2 separate regions of the Homo sapiens genome follow, and region 2 is linked to region 1. The links come from fine-mapping of genetic effects on plasma protein levels. A gene starts in region 1. The other region holds a variant in brackets. All regions are shown on one strand. Distances are between the middles of the regions. Region 1 holds the start of FETUB (fetuin B). Region 2 overlaps HRG-AS1 (HRG and FETUB antisense RNA 1).

The links. PIP is the posterior inclusion probability: the model's chance that the variant is causal. The UK Biobank Pharma Proteomics Project read protein levels with antibody pairs (Olink). The fine-mapping took linkage between variants from a reference panel, not from the people measured, so its PIPs are less certain.
Region 2: its variant is fine-mapped to the plasma level of the FETUB protein (UK Biobank, PIP above 0.99).

What each region holds. Positions count from the first base shown.
Region 1 is chr3:186,636,872-186,645,233 of GRCh38, reverse strand. It overlaps FETUB (fetuin B), which reads right to left and starts at 4,835. Exons shown (of 7, transcript NM_014375.3): 1 at 4,549-4,835; 2 at 4,094-4,204; 3 at 2,676-2,763; 4 at 314-483. The coding sequence starts at 4,773. It overlaps HRG-AS1 (HRG and FETUB antisense RNA 1), which reads left to right. Exons shown (of 3, transcript NR_187317.1): 2 at 3,106-3,280; 3 at 3,611-3,725.
Region 2 is chr3:186,657,125-186,665,486 of GRCh38, reverse strand. All of the region lies in intron 1 of HRG-AS1 (HRG and FETUB antisense RNA 1), which reads left to right. Among named protein-coding and RNA genes, the nearest start is that of HRG-AS1, 4.3 kb to the left of the region's middle. RefSeq lists enhancers at 1,658-2,338, 7,341-7,860. The variant G/A (reference allele first, on the strand shown) is at 4,734.

The DNA of each region.
Region 1 (8,362 bases):
ACATTTGAGAATACAGCAGTGAGTGGTGAACGTATGGATAATCCCCCAAGGAGACTAGGAGTTCATTTCTGTTCTTGCCTTAAGGTTAGGGAAGCAAAATCAAGCCGCCTGACTCTTGTAGAAATGCCATGGAATCACTTAGAAAGTGAAACATGATAGAATGGGCATCAGGTCTATCAAAGTGGGGAAAGTAGAGAAAGGTATTTTGGTTCTAATCAAAATGAGTGCCTTGACATTTTCCTCCCAGCTTAGGAACCTACAGCAACAGTTATGAGACACACTGTGTAACTGGCTTGGGCAGTTTTAGCCTTACCTGGCTAGAAGCCCTGGTGACTTTGAAGAGAGAATACTGCTTGGATGTGTTCTCATTGTTGTATTTCGCAAGAGACTCGGTGGCAGCCTCCAGCACTTGGTGATTGGAAGAGTCAGTGGGTATGGAGCTTGGGCAGTCAGGGCACGTCATGTAAATCTTTTTTTTTGAAACTGTTGATGCCAATAACATAAGTTTTTAAATGCTATTAATTTTCAATAAATCATATGACTGTAAAGAGGCAAGGATGGGGTGAGGAAGTTACCTCTGGAATATACCCCTGGAATAGAAGTTAGCTGTCAGCAGTGTTTTCTGTAATGACCATGTATTACTTTCACAATTAAAAAAGAGACCAGAACAAAGCAAAGTTTTCACCTCACACACATTTACTCTGAGAATTTTGTTCAAAGACACATAATATAGTATATTAAAATAGGACCTTTTCCTCCAACTAGTTCACTATCTTTTCTCATTATTGACCCTGTAAAGTAGACTGTCTTCAGAGATTGGGATTTCATTACCGCAATATCTTATTTACCTTTCAGTTCCTAACACCGAACATCATATCTGATACATAGGCAGTGCTTAGTAAATGCTTGTAGAATGAATGGATAAGTGAATGGCATAGTAGAAGGCAGAAGCGCACCCCGTTTGGTTAGAAATGCAAGTGAGATCTGTCAAAGGATACAAAATTACAGCTAGATAGGGGGATAAATTCTAGTGTTCTGGACCACTGTAGGATGACTACAGTTAACAATAAGATAAAATTTCAAATAGCTAGAAGGGTATTGAATGTTCCCGACACAAGGAAGTGATAAAGGTTTGAGATGATGGATATACTAATAACCTAATCCGATCACAATACAGTATATATATGGAAATATCACTATATATGCCATAAATAGGTATAACTATTATTTATCAATAAAAAATAAGACTAAATATTTTTTTAAGAAGAAAAATGCAAGTGAGCCAGAAAACAAAATGGGTCAAGTCACTGTGTGACTGAGTAGAATGATCACATTAAGTACAGTCAGATTTCTGTTTGGGAGGAGCTGAGGTCAATAAGCCTAGTGTGAAAGTCAAGGTACAGAATTTATCTTGAAGCTGCTTTTGCAGAGCAAACACATTGTTTTTAGAAATTTTGTGTTTATCTGCATGCACTTGGGGACTGGTGGAGATAATGGGGGACTTCCAGCTACAGCTTGTCACTCCTGAATCATCACCACCTGTCACTTCCTGACCTCCCATAGCTCTGATACTTATGACTTCCATTTAAGTCCTGAGACTGTTTACTACTTGCTGTTCTGTGAATCTTGCCTTCACAACCAGGAACCTTAAACTGTGCCTAACAAAATGTTTGCTCGCTTGCCTTGTTATTCAAAGCAACCAGCAGCATTCTTATCTCCTGGAGCTTATTAGAGATGCAGGATCTCAGGTCCTGACCAAGACCTGTGGAATCAGAATCTACACTTGCACAGGATCCACCAGGGGAGCGACACGCACGTAGTTGTTCGACAGGGGACCAAATTCTGTTTTCCTGCACTGTGGATGCTCTCTTTCCAAAGACCTTCCCTTGAAAAAAGGAAGGTCCCAAATGAATGCATGTGCATATTTCAAGTGTCATTAAGTTTCAGCCTCATTTCTAGTCCAATTATTTACTTAACAACATTATTGACACCTTCTACTTGGTGGGAACTGAGGAAGGGTGCAGCAGGAGGAGGAAAGGAGAAACTATTCTACATGATGTAAGATATGCGACCCTCAAATCAAGGCAGTGCATTATGTGTTCCCTGAGTAGTTTAGACAAAATTTTATAGGAATGCAGATTACAAAAGCACCATTCCTTTCTAGAATAGAGAACACTGTGGAAGAAGTGGTGTTGGTCCTTAAAGAATAGGTGTGTCCCAAGGTCAGAGGTCATCAGGGGAGGGCATGCTCAGCAGAGGGAGAGGCACAAGCAAGACACAGAGACTGGAAATTGCAGTGCATGTTCAGAAAACAGGGTGGCATCCAGTAGAATGGAGTGAAGAGTTGGTGTAGTCTGGGAAATAATGGCAGAGATAGCAAGAAAGGAAGCCTGAGGGAACAGTCATAGAAATTATACCATTTATGTCAGACTGAAAATGTAAGATCTGATGCAGCATATAAATGTAGAGGTAGTTTAGTAAGATTAATTGTGGGAAGAGGAGCAGTATAGTATGAATTTCAGTAAGGAGGTAAGTACTGGAAATATTAAGAAACTGGCATTAAGAATAAACAGAAAATAAGAATGAGAGATACCCTATACATTCTTGGCAAAGACCTGGTTAAGTACTCTTTTCCATCCTTTATTAAAACTAACAAAATCGTAGTGATTTCTTACCTGGGCGAAGAGTACAGTTATAAGCAGCTAAATAGAGAACTCTACTTGGGTTGTTCATATAAAATATTGCTTTGCATTGACCATAAACCTGAAACCAACAAATGCATTTTATGACATAGCGAATGCAACTATGAGCTTTTAAAATACCTCCAAAATTAAAGTCAGACATTTTCTTTTAAAGTAGTTAGAAACTTAAGATCAAATTCTGTGGTTTTGGCTGGGAGGAACTGCAGTTGATGATCAAACTGTTTAACCTTTCCCTAGGACACAGCTAGAATATGTTTCCAAGCCTCCCCAACACGTGTGACTGTGTATAATTGAGTTCTAACCACAGGAAGGTGAGCAGAAGTGAGGTGTAACCATTTCCAGATCTGGCTCATAAGGGTCTCCCACGTTCTCACTGTCCTCTATGCTCTTTCTCTGTGCACAGCTTGATGCAGATGAGCAGGTAACCATGGAAGTCGTGAGCTGAGGCTGCAGAGTCTAGAGCCAGAGTGTGGAATAAACTTGGGTCTCAAATCACCCCTGGAGCAAAGCACCCATCTAATCAGGAACTTCTACTTTCAACTTTACATGCGTGAGAAATGAACTTCTATCATGTTAGAGTGAGTATACAGTTTTTGTGTCTGTGTTTTAGTAGCTAGTGTCACCATAACAAATATAATTCACAACAGGATATTCACTTTTCAAAATCAAGTTGGGTACAGTTTGACCAATTGGCTACATGATTAGGAAAATATCTTGATCAAATAGTTTTCTTCTAAACACTTACATCACTATTCTGTACTCACACTGTAAAGTTTTATATCAATTACTGAAAATCATCCCAGGATAATTAAGAATGAAATGAAATGGATTATCTATTTTCAAGTCTCTTCTATGATCATCTTTAGAAGATTAATTCTGAGGCCCTTTATTATGCTCTGTGGTTTCAGGAAATCCTTACACGGCGCCCTTGAGAGCTTTCATACTGCAAGTCATCCATTTTCCTCCCCTCAAACCTGGCATCGGAGTTTATTGAAACAAAGCAAAATAAAACAAATAGACAAAGCTCTACCTCCATCACTTCTGCAGTCTACATTAACCCCACGTCCAGAATATTCACACCTCAGGTCTTTTTCTCACAATTGAAACACTGGTTCAGAGCCTAACGGAAGGTCTTGGAGGTAAAAACACAACTTGGGGCAACTTTTCCATTCTGTTCTGCATGACCCCAATGGGACTTCTCAGAAACCCCTCTCATGAATTAAACTTTGTTCTGTCTAGAGCATTAGAATAAGCTTATGGGCACCTGCCAGGAGATTATAAAGTGGGCCATTTAAAAGATGACAGATATTGAGCACCCTTGACCCTGTAGAAAGAGTGTACCTACTTGCTTTCCCTAGGGCCCTTAATGGTTTATAAAAACAAGCACTCACTGATTCAAAAAATATCCTCATTCCACAGTCTTGCCATGCCTTCTTTCTGAGCACATGGCAGTCAGTCTCTAGCACATCCAGTGTAAGATAGAACAGAGATCCCAGGCCACCCTGTGGGAAGGGGTAGAGAAATGCAATACATTTCACAGGAAGTAGAAACCTAGAAAGACCACACAAAAAAACCCCTGCTTTATGGCAAAGCCAAAGAATATTTGTGAAGATTCCCCGTAAACCATTAAATCTGACACAAGTGTCAGAGTAGGATCACTGTTAACACTTGTTTTTACTAACAATAAGTGCGTTGTTGCTGACCCTGGCAGAGGAGAACAGAGAGTTCTCGGCAGGGCTTCCAATACAGAAAACACCTGCCAGGGTGTCTCTGGGTTCCCTCACCCTGGCCAGTCTCTCCAGCTTGCCCACATCCCTGCCCCAGAGTGGGAACTGTCCCTACTTGCCCGTCTGTATTCCTGGGCGTCGTTCACTCGGTTGAGTCTCAGCACATAGCCATCCTTTCTGTCTTTGTTAATATCCCGCAGGGCAAAGCCTGCAACTGCCAGCACATCTGAGTCATTGCAGCCCCGGGAGAGCAGAGCCGAGGGGTTGAGGGCCAGCTGGGGTGGAGACATTGCTCCGCAGCACAGGACTAGGATGCAGAGTGCCAGGGGAAGGAGCAGACCCATTCTGTGGAGAACAAGGCCCAGGATGGGTCAGTTTGTGGAGCTGCAGGGACTGGCTGGCTTGTAAGGCTCTTTAAGGCAGACTTGAGCGGTTTTGTTACAACTGGAAGGGCTAACCAAGTTCACCTTGAATTCTGAACTTGGATTTTCCTAAGTCAGTACTTTGGATAGCATTTCCCAATGATTCTAACCTTAGACCCTTGAGCAACCTCATATCCACCTGTACATACAAATGAATTTAAGTTTCCCAACTGTTTCCTGAGAAATCATAACATTTGTTCAAGGCTCTTATGATTAGATTCTGATTTGCAGGTCCCCTCCTGAATAGGAATATGGAGGACTGTCCCATTCTCCCCCTCTCCCCTAACACCTTTGCTGTGGAGGTCTCCTTGGCCACTCTAATAGTTATCTTATGTCCCAGTGGTGCTTGGTGAATTCAGACTTCCTGGCTGACACTCTGTGTGCAAAGCCCTTGTTAGATCAGGGAGGTAGTTGAACCCCACAGTCATCTGCCAGAAGCACAGTTGAGATTCCTTAAGCACTTTGGCCATCTGGGTGGAAAATGTTCTACTTATCATCATTTAAGTTATTTTTAAACAATGACTTTACTTAAGGGGAAAAAGTCAAAGAGATATAAAAAGTTCTCACATTGTATTTCAAGCCTATTCTTCCTTTTATGCATATGTATGGAAGCAAGCTCATTAAGAGACTAAAGCCCCATACTCTTGCTAAAAGAAAGATACTGAAGGGCAGGTGGGTGGCAACACATTGGTTGGGACTCTTGCCTTCTTTTTTTTTTTTTTTTTTTAGCTTCTATTTGTGATTCAGAAAGGTTCTACTTATTGGGACCATACAAAAGACAATTATCTTTTAAAAACTGTATTTCAACAAAAAACACATATCAGCAGTAGTTTGTCATGAGAGAAAAGAGACAAAATGGGAAAGAAGCCTCTAGAAGAGGTTATCATGAAGGGCATTCTATAAAGCCCTAGTCCATGAGGTGAGTAACCACCCCCTAACTCTCTCCCTACTCCTAGCCCTTCTCTTCCTTCCTGTCCCTGTCCAAGGATTCTGCATTCAAATAAGTTTAGGAACTGCTGAATCCTTCTGTGTGCTTGCTGGTACACAGTGGTGGCTATTGTGTAATGCTGAGAGGATTATCCTATCCTGATGAGGGCTCCACCCTCATGAATGGAATATGCCATTATCTTGAAAGTGAGTTCCTGATAAAAGGATGTGTTTGGTCCCCTTCTCTCTTCCTTTCACCTGTGTGATGCCTTCCACCATGTTATGATGTAGCATGAAGGCTCTCAGCAGGTATAGCCCCTCGATCTTAGACTTCCCAGCCCCCCAAACCATGAGCCAAAGTAATTTCTGTTCATTATAAATTCCCTGGTCTCTGATATTCTGTTATAACTACATAAAACTAACTGAGGCACAGCCCTAATTAATTTCTGGAGAGAAATAGTTTTTGAGGATTGATTGAAAAACCCAAATCTAAAGATCCCAGCTCTGTGGATGTGGGCTGTAGGCATTGTTTTCAAATAGGAACGATACTAGCAAAATGGGTACAGAAACCAGACATTCAGATTCTGGGGCACAACAAAGGTTTAGCTTCAGCCAGTGAGGAGACAAACATTCATTGAGCTTGAGCAACGTACAGAAAGAGGTTGAGAAGGATCTGGGGCCTGAGGATGCAGAACAAAGAGGAGGAGAATGGTCTGGGACCTGAGGAATATATTAGACTTATATAGGTGAAGGCCATGAGTGCAACTAAAATAAAAGGCAGGACTCAAACAGATAAAAAGATCCAATAACATGGAAATCGTGCACCACCACTTATGCACCTGGGTTTCAACCCAGTCTCAAACAACCTGAGCTGGCCTTCTCCTAGGCTGTGGAGTATGGGAGCCCTGGGAGAGGAAGCAGGGGAAGAGTCCAGCCTTTGGTGTCAGGCAGTCTTGGGTTTAAATTCCACCTCTTCCACTGCACGGTAAGAGGGCCTGTGACACTGGGTGTGCCACACAGCATTTTGTTTCCTTATTCATAAAACAATGGCACTCCCAGCATATGTATACATGCACAGTTGCACCTGCCTGTAGAAAGAGAATAGAGTTCCTCTTTCCCTAGAAGCCCAACCCAGGTACACTTGTGTTTGGTTCCCATCACATATGGGAACAACTTTAGTATCAGCATGGAAGTTAAATTTCTGCTCAGGAGTGAAGAACAAGGCTGTGGAGATAGATCAATCTAGGTTTTGTTGAATCCAGTGTGTCTAATAGAAATACAATGCAAGTTACATATTTAATTTTAAAATTTCTGGTATCTGCATTCGAAAAGTAAAAAGAAACAGATGATATTAATTTTAACAATATTTTGCTTAACCTGTCAATCCAAAATATTATAATTTCAATATGTGATTAACATAAAAATTATGAAAGGCACAGTTTACATTCTTTGTTTCACACTATGGCATACCCCAATTTGGAGTAGCCACAGTTAAGACGCTCAAGAGTTGCATGTGGGTACCTTATCAGACAGCCCAGGTCTAGCTCTTGGGAGCCTCAGGCTCCTCCCATGTAAAAGGAAGGTAGCAGGATTCTCCATCTCCTGAGGTTGCAATATGGACTTATCACAGGGGAAGTATGCAAAGGTGCTTAGCACAGCCCTGGTGCACAGGACGTCCAGAGACAATGTCCAAGGACAGCTGTCAGTGCTGTGACTGTACCCTGTGGTCCTCACTTTGTCTCCCACGGTGCAGATTCTTATGTGACTCTGCCAGTGGCCTTTTTCTGGTTACACTTGAATGGATGCATCGCCAGGTGAACCAGGTTGGGAGAAACAAGGCTGATTTTCCCTGAGTGAGGAGGGAGAGGCAGGGGGCTCCCTGGCCTGCCCACCTCCTGACACAGGTGTGATCCAGGGCAGTGACTTAGGATTATTGATTTGAGAACAGGGAGAGATCAGACAGGTGAGACATTGTTGGCTGCAGAGCTGAGAGAGACACAGCACACGTGATTAGGCATCTGGGGAATTAGAAATCTAGGTACCAAGTCTTGGCCTAAGGGGACAGGATGTGTACTTAGCAAAACTGGACGGCAGCCATGGCTCCAAAATACCAGGTGGGAGCTGCCTGGTACATGATGGTCTCTACAGCTAGTTGCTGTGTTTCTCTCTCTCTTCCCTTTCCTCCCTTTATCTTTTCTTCCTTCCACAAACACTGAATGAACATCTCCTCCAACCACTGCCAAAGCCCGGCACTATATATGAAACTGATATTTCTCAGTGTGTGCCCAGCCCTGTGCTAAACACTCTGTGTTCCTTCTCTCATGTAAGCCCATGACCAACCGAGGCCTGTAGGTGCCACTATTATTCCCATTGTACAGATAAGGAGGCTGAGGAACAGAAAGGTTACATTGCCTGCCTGAGGTCTTACAGCCAGGGTTTGCATCCAACCTATGTGGCTTCAGAGAAGAAGGCATGGTTCTTGCCCTCAAGGAGTGGATGCTAGGAACGCACCAAGGGGAGAAACTAGTTCTACTGGGGAAGTCAAGACAGGCTTCCTAGAGGGGGTAACATTCACTCTGGAGCT
Region 2 (8,362 bases), 20 kb before region 1:
TACTTTCTTACTGTGTAATGCTGGGTAAGCAACAAAACTTCTCTGATAGTTCCCTCATTTACGAAATATGGATTGATACCTCTTGGCAGGCTTGTGTGATAATTAAATAAGAAATCAGGCTGGGTGCGGTGGCTCATGCCTGTAATCCCAGCACTTTGGGAGGCCAAGGCAGGCTGATCACAAGGTCAGGAGATTGAGACCAGCCTGGCCAACATGGTGAAACCCTGTCTCTACTAAAAATACAAAAAATTAGCTGGGCATGGTGGCACATGCCTGTAATCGCCGCTACTTGGGAGGCTGAGGCAGGAGAATCACTTGAACCCGGGAGGCGGAGATTGCAGTGAGCTGAGATCGCGCCACTGCACTCCAGCTCGGGCGACAGTGTGAGATTCCATCTAAAAAAGAAAGAAAGAAAAAAAGAAAGCAACCAGTATAATTCTTGGCATAGAGTAGATGCTGAATAAGTGATGCTATTTATTATTAGTGTGCCTGCAAAGAAGTTGGGGACACCTCATGCCACCCCAATTCCCTGCAAAAAGAATTGATTCACGTGGAAGAGGATGGTGGTGAGAGTAAGAGTCAAATAGTTGGATGCCCATCCCACTGTTAGAAGGGATCAGCAGGGGGGGACTGGGCTATGATACAGCTGACCCCCTACCTTCACACTTCAGAAGAAACCCGTATACCTATATGCAACCCTCAGACCAGCAGAGCCAGCAGCATCAGAAGGGACCAGAGGGAATCAGCCTAGGTTCCGTCCTCACTGCCAAGAAACAGCCAGTTAGGCAGCATCTCCATTCCTCCCTGTTCTATCCGCAGTGAGTGTCTGTGAGAGTCTGCAGTCATGTCTCTCAGACTCGGCTTCATGTTAGAATCACCCCAGGAGCTTTAAAAAGTCCTGATGTCAAGGACTCCTCCAGGACAATTTAATCAGAATCTCTGGGAGTGGACTTTGGTATTGGTAGTTTTTAAACTCCTAGGTAATCCAGTGTGTGCAGTCAAGGTTGAGAATTACTGGGATTCTAGAGTGAACTGAAGAGAGGGAAAGGATTTGAAGACAGAAAGAAAAGGGAGGTGTATGAAAAGTAGATCTCATTTCCACAAGTCACAGGGTTAATGAGTGCAACAGGTTTTGAATAATGTTTGCAATTGAACTTTTAATGTCAGTAACCCTGGCTTTTAAATACCCAATGGGACCAGTCCAGTGCAACAGAAAATGACAGGAATGTATGGAATCTGGTCAAGGTGTTAAGAGGCTCCAACCCAGTGGGGAAGGGGAAAGCTATTGATTAAAACAAAAACTATTTTGAGTTTTTGTTATTATGAGTTGAGCTCCTTAATGAAGTTTTTCTATTATGGCTATATTGGCTGCACCCTAAATGGGGTGTCCTGGGTGAACCAAATGCTGGTGTAGGGAAAGGAATGGGAATGTTGAGGGGATGGGAAGAGGCATCAAGAACAGGAATATAATTTTCCTACAGTGCTGTTCTGCTGAGACTACAGAGTACCTCAGGGAGTCATGCATCCTCTTCCTGTTGCTTTACTGAATCTTAAAGAGTGATACAGTACTAATGATGCCATTCTAGCAACTGGAGCAGCTTCAGGGGAGAGAGCACATTAAGGGTGCTGGGATGGTAATGGTTGGGAGGAAGCTGAATGGTAGTAAGAGAGACATTCTGTCCTGAGAACTCTGATCCAGTAAGTGATATTTGGCTTTGGGGATGGTTCCTATTAGCATTATGGGAACTAGAGAGTGGCCTCAGATGGAAGTGCTGACTTTACACAGATGGTATCTTTCATGCGCGTCCGTGTGAAGAGACCACCAAACAGGCTTTGTGTGAGCAATAAAGCTTTTAATCACCTGGGTGCCGGCGGGCTGAGTCCAAAAAGACAGTCAGAGAAGGGAGATGGGGTGGGGACGTTTTATCGGATTTGGGTAGGTAAAGGAAAAAGGGGGGTTGTTCTCTGGCAGGCAGGAGTAGGGGTCACAAGGTGCTCAGTAGGGGAGCTTTTAAGCCAGGATGAGCCAGGAGAAAGAATTTCACAAGATAATGCCATCAGTTAAGGCAGGAACAGGCCATTTTCATTTCTTTTGTAGTGGAATGTCATCAGTTAAGGCAGGAACCGGCCATCTGGATGTGCATGTGCAGGTCACAGGGGATATGATGGCTTAGCTTGGGCTCAGAGGCCTGACATTCCTGTCTTCTTATATTAATAAGAAAAATAAAATGAAATAGTGGTAAAGTGTTGGGATGGCAAAAATTTTGGGGGATGGTATGGAGAGATAATGGGCGATGTTTCTCAGGGCTGCTTCGAGTGGGATTAGGGGCGGCGTGGGAACCTAGAGTGGGAGAGATTAAGCTGAAGGAAGATTTTGTGGTAAGGGGTGATATTGTGGGACTGTTAGAGGAAACATTTGTCATTTAGAATTATTGATGATTGCCTGGATATGGTTTTGTATGAACTGAGAAACTAAATGGAATAAGAGAAGGAGAAAAACAGGTATTAAAGGTCTAAGAATTGGGAAGACCTAGGACATCTAATTAGAGTGCCTAAGGAGATTCAGCGTAGTCCTGCCAGCAAAGATTATTTATTTACTTCAAGAATGGCAGTTTGGGGATACCACCAGGAGATATCAGCTGTGATGGCTTGGAGAAACAGTGTAAACTGGCAGTGTAAACAAGAGCAGGACATGTATGAGTAGTTGAGAACAGTGAATAGGAGTATGACTAGAGAGAAGATAGTAGGGATGACAAGTTTTTTGGGGCACAGTCTAAGTTGGTCTGGTGTCTGGAATGAGACTGGGGCTTAATAAAAAGGAGCCTCTATACAGGAGCTCAAATGGGCTGTACCTTGTAGCATTCTGAGGACAGGCCTGACTTCTGAGAAAAGAAAGAGGTAAAAGTTTTTCTAGCCCTTTTTAAGTTGGTGGCTGAGGTTTTAAAAGACAATTAGTCCATTCTACTTTTCCTGAAGACTGAGGACTGTAAGGGATATAAAGGTTTCATTGAATACTAAGAGCCTGAAAAACTGCTTGGCTGATTTGACTAATAAAGGCCGGTCTGCTATCGGACTGTATAGAGGTGGGAAGGCCAAACCGAGTAATTGTGTCTGACAGAAGGGAAGAAATGACTGTGTTGGCCTTCTTAGACCCTGTGGGAAAGGCCTCTACCTATCCAGTGAAAGTGTCTACCTAGACCAAGAGGTATTTTAGTTATCTGACTCGGGGCATGTTGAGTAAAGCTAATTTGCCAGTCCTGGGTGGGGGCAAATCTCTGAGCTTGATGTGTAGGGAAGGGAGGGGGCCTGAATAATCCCTGAGGAGTAGTAGAATAGCAGATGGAACACTGAGAAGTTATTTCCTTGAGGATACATTTCCACGATGGAAAGGAAATGAGAGGTTCTAAGAGGCGGGCTAGTGGCTTGTACCATAGCATAGCCTGCCTTTGCTGGTGTGTGGCGATTAGGCCTGGTGGAACTGCCATCAATAAATCAAGCGTGATCAGGGTGAGGAACAGGAAAGGAGAAAATATGGGGAAATGGGGTGAATGTCAGGTGGATCAGAGAGATACAGTCATGGGGGTCAGGTGTGGTATCAGGAATAATGTGGGAGGCCGGATTGACGTCCGGGCCAGGAACAATGGTAATTGTGGGACTTAACAAAGAACGAGTACAGCTGAAGGAGCCGGGGAACAGAAAGCATATGCGTCAGGTATGAGGAAGAAAATCGGTTTTGGAAGTTACGAGAAATGTAGAGAGTGAGTTGAGCATAGTTTGTGATTTTTAGGGCCTCTAAAAGTATTAAAGCAGCGGCAGCTGCTGCATGCAGACAGGAGGGCTAGGCTAAAACAGTAAGGTCAAGTTGTTTGGACAGAAAGGCTACAGGGTGCGGTCCCGGCTCTTGTGTAAGAATTCTGACCGAACTAACCATGCCTAGGAAGGAAAGGAGTTGTTGTTTTGTAAGGGATTGAGGTTTGGGAGATTAATCGGTCACGATCAGCAGGGAAAGCATGTGTGTTTTTATGAGAATTATGCCGAGATAGGTAAGAGATGAGGATGAAATTTGGGCTTGATTGAACTAATGCGGGCTGTCTGTGAAGCCTTGCGGCAGTACAGCCCAGGTGATTTGCTGAGCCTAATGGGTGTCAGGGTTAGTCTAAGTGAAAACAAAGAGAGGCTGGGATGAAGGGTGCAAAGGAATAGTAAAGAAAGCATGTTTGAGATCCAGAACAGAATAATGGATTGTAGAGGGAGGTATTGAGGATAGGAGAGTATATGGGTTTAGCACCATGGGGTGGCTAGGCAAAACAATTTGGTTGATAAGGCGCAGATTCTGAACTAACCTGTAAGCCTTGTCTGGTTTTAGGACAGGTAAAATGGGGGAATGGTAAGAAGAGTTTATAGGCTTTAAAAGGCCTTGCTGTAACAGGCGAGTGATAACAGGCTTTAATCTTTTCAAAGCATGCTGCGGGATGGGATATTGGCATTGATTGGGGTAAGGGTGATTAGGTTTTAATGGGATGGTAAGGGGTGCATGATCGGTCGCTAAGGAGGGAGTAGAGGTGTCTTATACTTATGGGTTACGGTGGGGAGATACAAGGGGAGGATGTGAAGGAGGCTTTGAACTGGGGGAAAAGGCGGCAATGAGGTGTGGCTGTAGCCCAGGAATAGTCAGGGAAGCAGATAATTTAGTTAAAGTGTCTCGGCCTAATAAGGGAACTGGGCAGGTGGGG[G/A]TAACTAAAAGGAGTGATTAAAAGAGTACTGTCTAAGTTGGCACCAGAGTTGGGGAGTTTTAAGAGGTTTAGAAGCCTGGCTGCCAATACCTACAACAGTTATGAAGGCAAAGGAAACAGGCCTTTGGAAAGAAGGTAATGTGGAGTGGGTAGCCTCCGTATTGATTAAGACGGGGACGGACTTACTTTCTACTCTGAGAGTTACTTCAAGCTTGGCGTCCGTGATGGCCTACGGGGCTTCCAAGGCGATCGGGCAGCGTCAGTCTTCAGCTGCTAAGCTGAGAAAATGTGAGAAGGAGTCAGTCAGAGAGCCTTGGGCCGGAGTTCCAGGGGCTCTGGGAGTGGCTGCCAGGTGAGTTGAAGAGTCTGATTTTCAGTGGAGTCCTACACAGATGGGATACGGCTGAGGAGGAATCCTGGGCTGTGGGCATTCCTTGGCCTAGTGGCTAGATTTCTGGCACTTGAAGCAAGATCCTGATGCAGGAAGTCCTGTAGGAATGCTTGACTGCTGCGGCTTAGGCGTGTGCGGCTGAGGCATTTTGAAGTTCTCCTATGCTGGAGGTGTGGCTGGGTCTCGTCTCACAGCAGAGGCAAGTAATTGTAACTCAGAAACGCGTTGCCGTCTGGATGCTTCTTCTCTATTATTGTACACCTTGAAGGCAAGATTGATTAATTCCTGTTGTGGGGTTTGAGGGCTAGATTCTAATTTTTGAAGTTTTTTCTTAATGTCAGGAGTGGATTGGATGATAAAATGCATGTTAAGAATAAGGCGGCCTTCTGGCCCTTCTGGGTCTAGGGCGGTATAGCGTCCAAAGGTTGCTGCTAAGCCGGCCATGAACTGGGCTGGGTTTTCGTCTCTACCTTGGGTAGTCTCTTCAAGCTTGTCATAATTAACAGCTTTGTAAGCTGCCTTTTTAAGCCTTTCAAGTAGGCAGGAATCATGTAATCTCACCTAGCTATACCTGGGGAATTTGTCTGATAGTTCCATTGGGGATCTTCTCGGGGAACTGCTCTAATGCCTTCCTGGAGGTCTGGCTCGTGAAGCCGGCGGTTATCAGCGTGAGATTGGGCTAGAGAAAAAACTCTTTCCCGTTCATCTGGGGAGAGGGTAGAAGTTAGGATGACATTTCAGTCACTCCAGGTTAACTTGTAGGACAGAGTTAGATATCAGAATTCCTGTATACATTTAGTGGGGTCTGATGAGAAAGAGCCTAAACACTGACTGATCTGAGAGAGGCGTGATAGAGAAAAAGGTACATGTACCCTGACTATGCCTTCAGCTCTAGCCACCTCTCTAAGAGGAAACTGTTGGGCAGGTGGGGAAGAACTAGTCACAGAACTAAACTGTATGCCGGAACGGCTGTGAGGAGGGGAGATGGTAGAAGGATTATAGGGTGGAGGAGCAGAGGCTGAGGAAGAATTGGGACTTAGCTCGGCCTGGTGACAAGCAGCCTGGGGAGGAGGGGAAAGGTCAGATGGGTCTGTAGAAAAGGAAGACTGGAAAGACTCAGCAACGCTTGGGGTTGGGACTGAGGGGACAGGCGGGAGGGAAAGAAGGAAGATTTGGGACGAGTTGCATTGGGAACAGAGACCAGGGAGGGACCGATATGTAAAAGAATGCCTGGACATCAGGCACCTCAGACCGTTTGCCTATTTTACGACAAGAATTATTTAGATCTTATAGGATGGAAAAATTGAAAGTGTTGTTTTCTGGCTATTTGGAAGTACTGTCGAGTTTGTATTGGGGTCAAGCGGCATTGCAGAAGAAAATAAGACGCTTAGATTTTAGGTCAGGTGAGAGTTGAAGAGGTTTTAAGCTCTTGAGAACACAGGCTAAGGAAGAAGAAGGAGGAATGGAAGGTGGAAGCTTGCCCATAGTGAAGGAGGCAAGCCCAGAGAAAAGAGAGTAGAGACATGGAGAAGGGTTGGGGGGTTCTTGCCCTCCAGAAAAGCAGAGAAGGGGTCAGGGCACGGAAATAAGGGGTTGAGGCGCAGAGATAAGAGGTCGGGGCACGGAAATAAGGGATCGGGGCACAGAAATAAGAGGTTGGGGCATGGAAATAAGGGATCGGGGTGCAGAGATAAGAGGTCGGGGTTCCTGCCCCTCCCCTAGAAAAGCGGGACTTGCCGCTAAGGGTGAAAGACCAAGGCAGGTGTCCTTGCGTGGTCTGACACCTCTGAAACCTGAGTGAATAATCAGAGAGGCATCCCCACAATGATTAAACACCAAGGGAAGGCTGCCTTTCTTAGTCCACGACCGGCATTGGAGTTTTGGGTCCATGGATAAAACATGTCTCCTTTGTCTCTACCAGAAAATGAAAGGAATTGAAATTAAGAGAAGGGAGAGATTGAAGTGTGGCACCAAGATTGAACAGAGAAAGAGGTTGAGGGATAGTGAGGGAGGTTGGAGAAGAGTGTAAAAAGAGGCTGTTCACGGGATTTGAAATTGGTGAGATGTTTCTTGGGCTGGTCAGCCTGAGGACCTGAGATCGTAGGTGGATCTTTCTCACGGAGCAAAGAACAGGAGGACTAGGGATTGATCTCCCAAGGGAGTTCCCCTGATCCGAGTCACGGCAGCAAATTTCATGTGTGTCCGTGTGAAGAGACCACCAAACAGGCTTTGTCTGAGCAATAAATCTTTTAATCACCTGGGTGCAGGTGGGCTGAGTCCAAAAAGAGTCAGTGAAGGGAGATGGGGTGGGGCCATTTTATAGGATTTAGGTACGTAAAGGAAAAAGAGGGGTTGTTCTCTGGCAGGCAGGAGTAGGGGTCACAAGGTGCTCAGTAGGGGAGCTTTTGAGCCAAGATGAGCCAGGAGAAGGAATTTCACAAGATAATGCTATCAGTTAAGGCAGGAACAGGCCATTTTCATTTCTTTTGTAGTGGAATGTCATCAGTTAAGCCAGGAACCGGCCATCTGGATGTGTATGTGCAGGTCTCAGGGGATATGATGGCTTAGCTTAGGCTCAGAGGCCTGACACTATCTGGGCAGACTGGGCAGGTAGAATCTTCATCTTTACCTTTTCTTTTCTTTCTTTTTTTTTTTTTGAGACAAAGTCTCACCTGCTCTGTTGCCTAGGTTGTTGTATAGTGGTGCCATCTCAGCTCACTGCTGTAACCTCCACCTCCCAGTTTCAAGCAATTCTTCTGTCTCATCCTCCTGAGTACTGGGACTACAGGTGCCCACCACCACGCCTGGCTAAAATTTGTACTTTTAGTAGAGACAAGGTTTCACCATATTGGTCAGGCTGATCTCGAACCCCTGACCTCAGGTGATCCACCCGCCTCAGCCTCCCATAGTGGTGTGATTATAGGAATGAGCCACTGCGCCCTGCCGTCTTCACATTTTCATTCTGCATTTAGGTTATTTCTGTGTGTCCTGACCATTGTATCAGAAAAAAGAGTTAGCTAACAGAATTTTTATTCTTTAAACCTTTTTGACTCATAATAGAACACATGCTTTTTGCAAAAAATATGGAAAATACGAAAAGCATAAAGAAAATTCACCTCTAATTCTACAACCATAAGGAAAACCAACTATTTATAATGCATAATTGCTTCATACACTTTTTGCTATTTGAATATATGTAATATATATGTTTTGCATCATTAGAATTATTCTGTACATA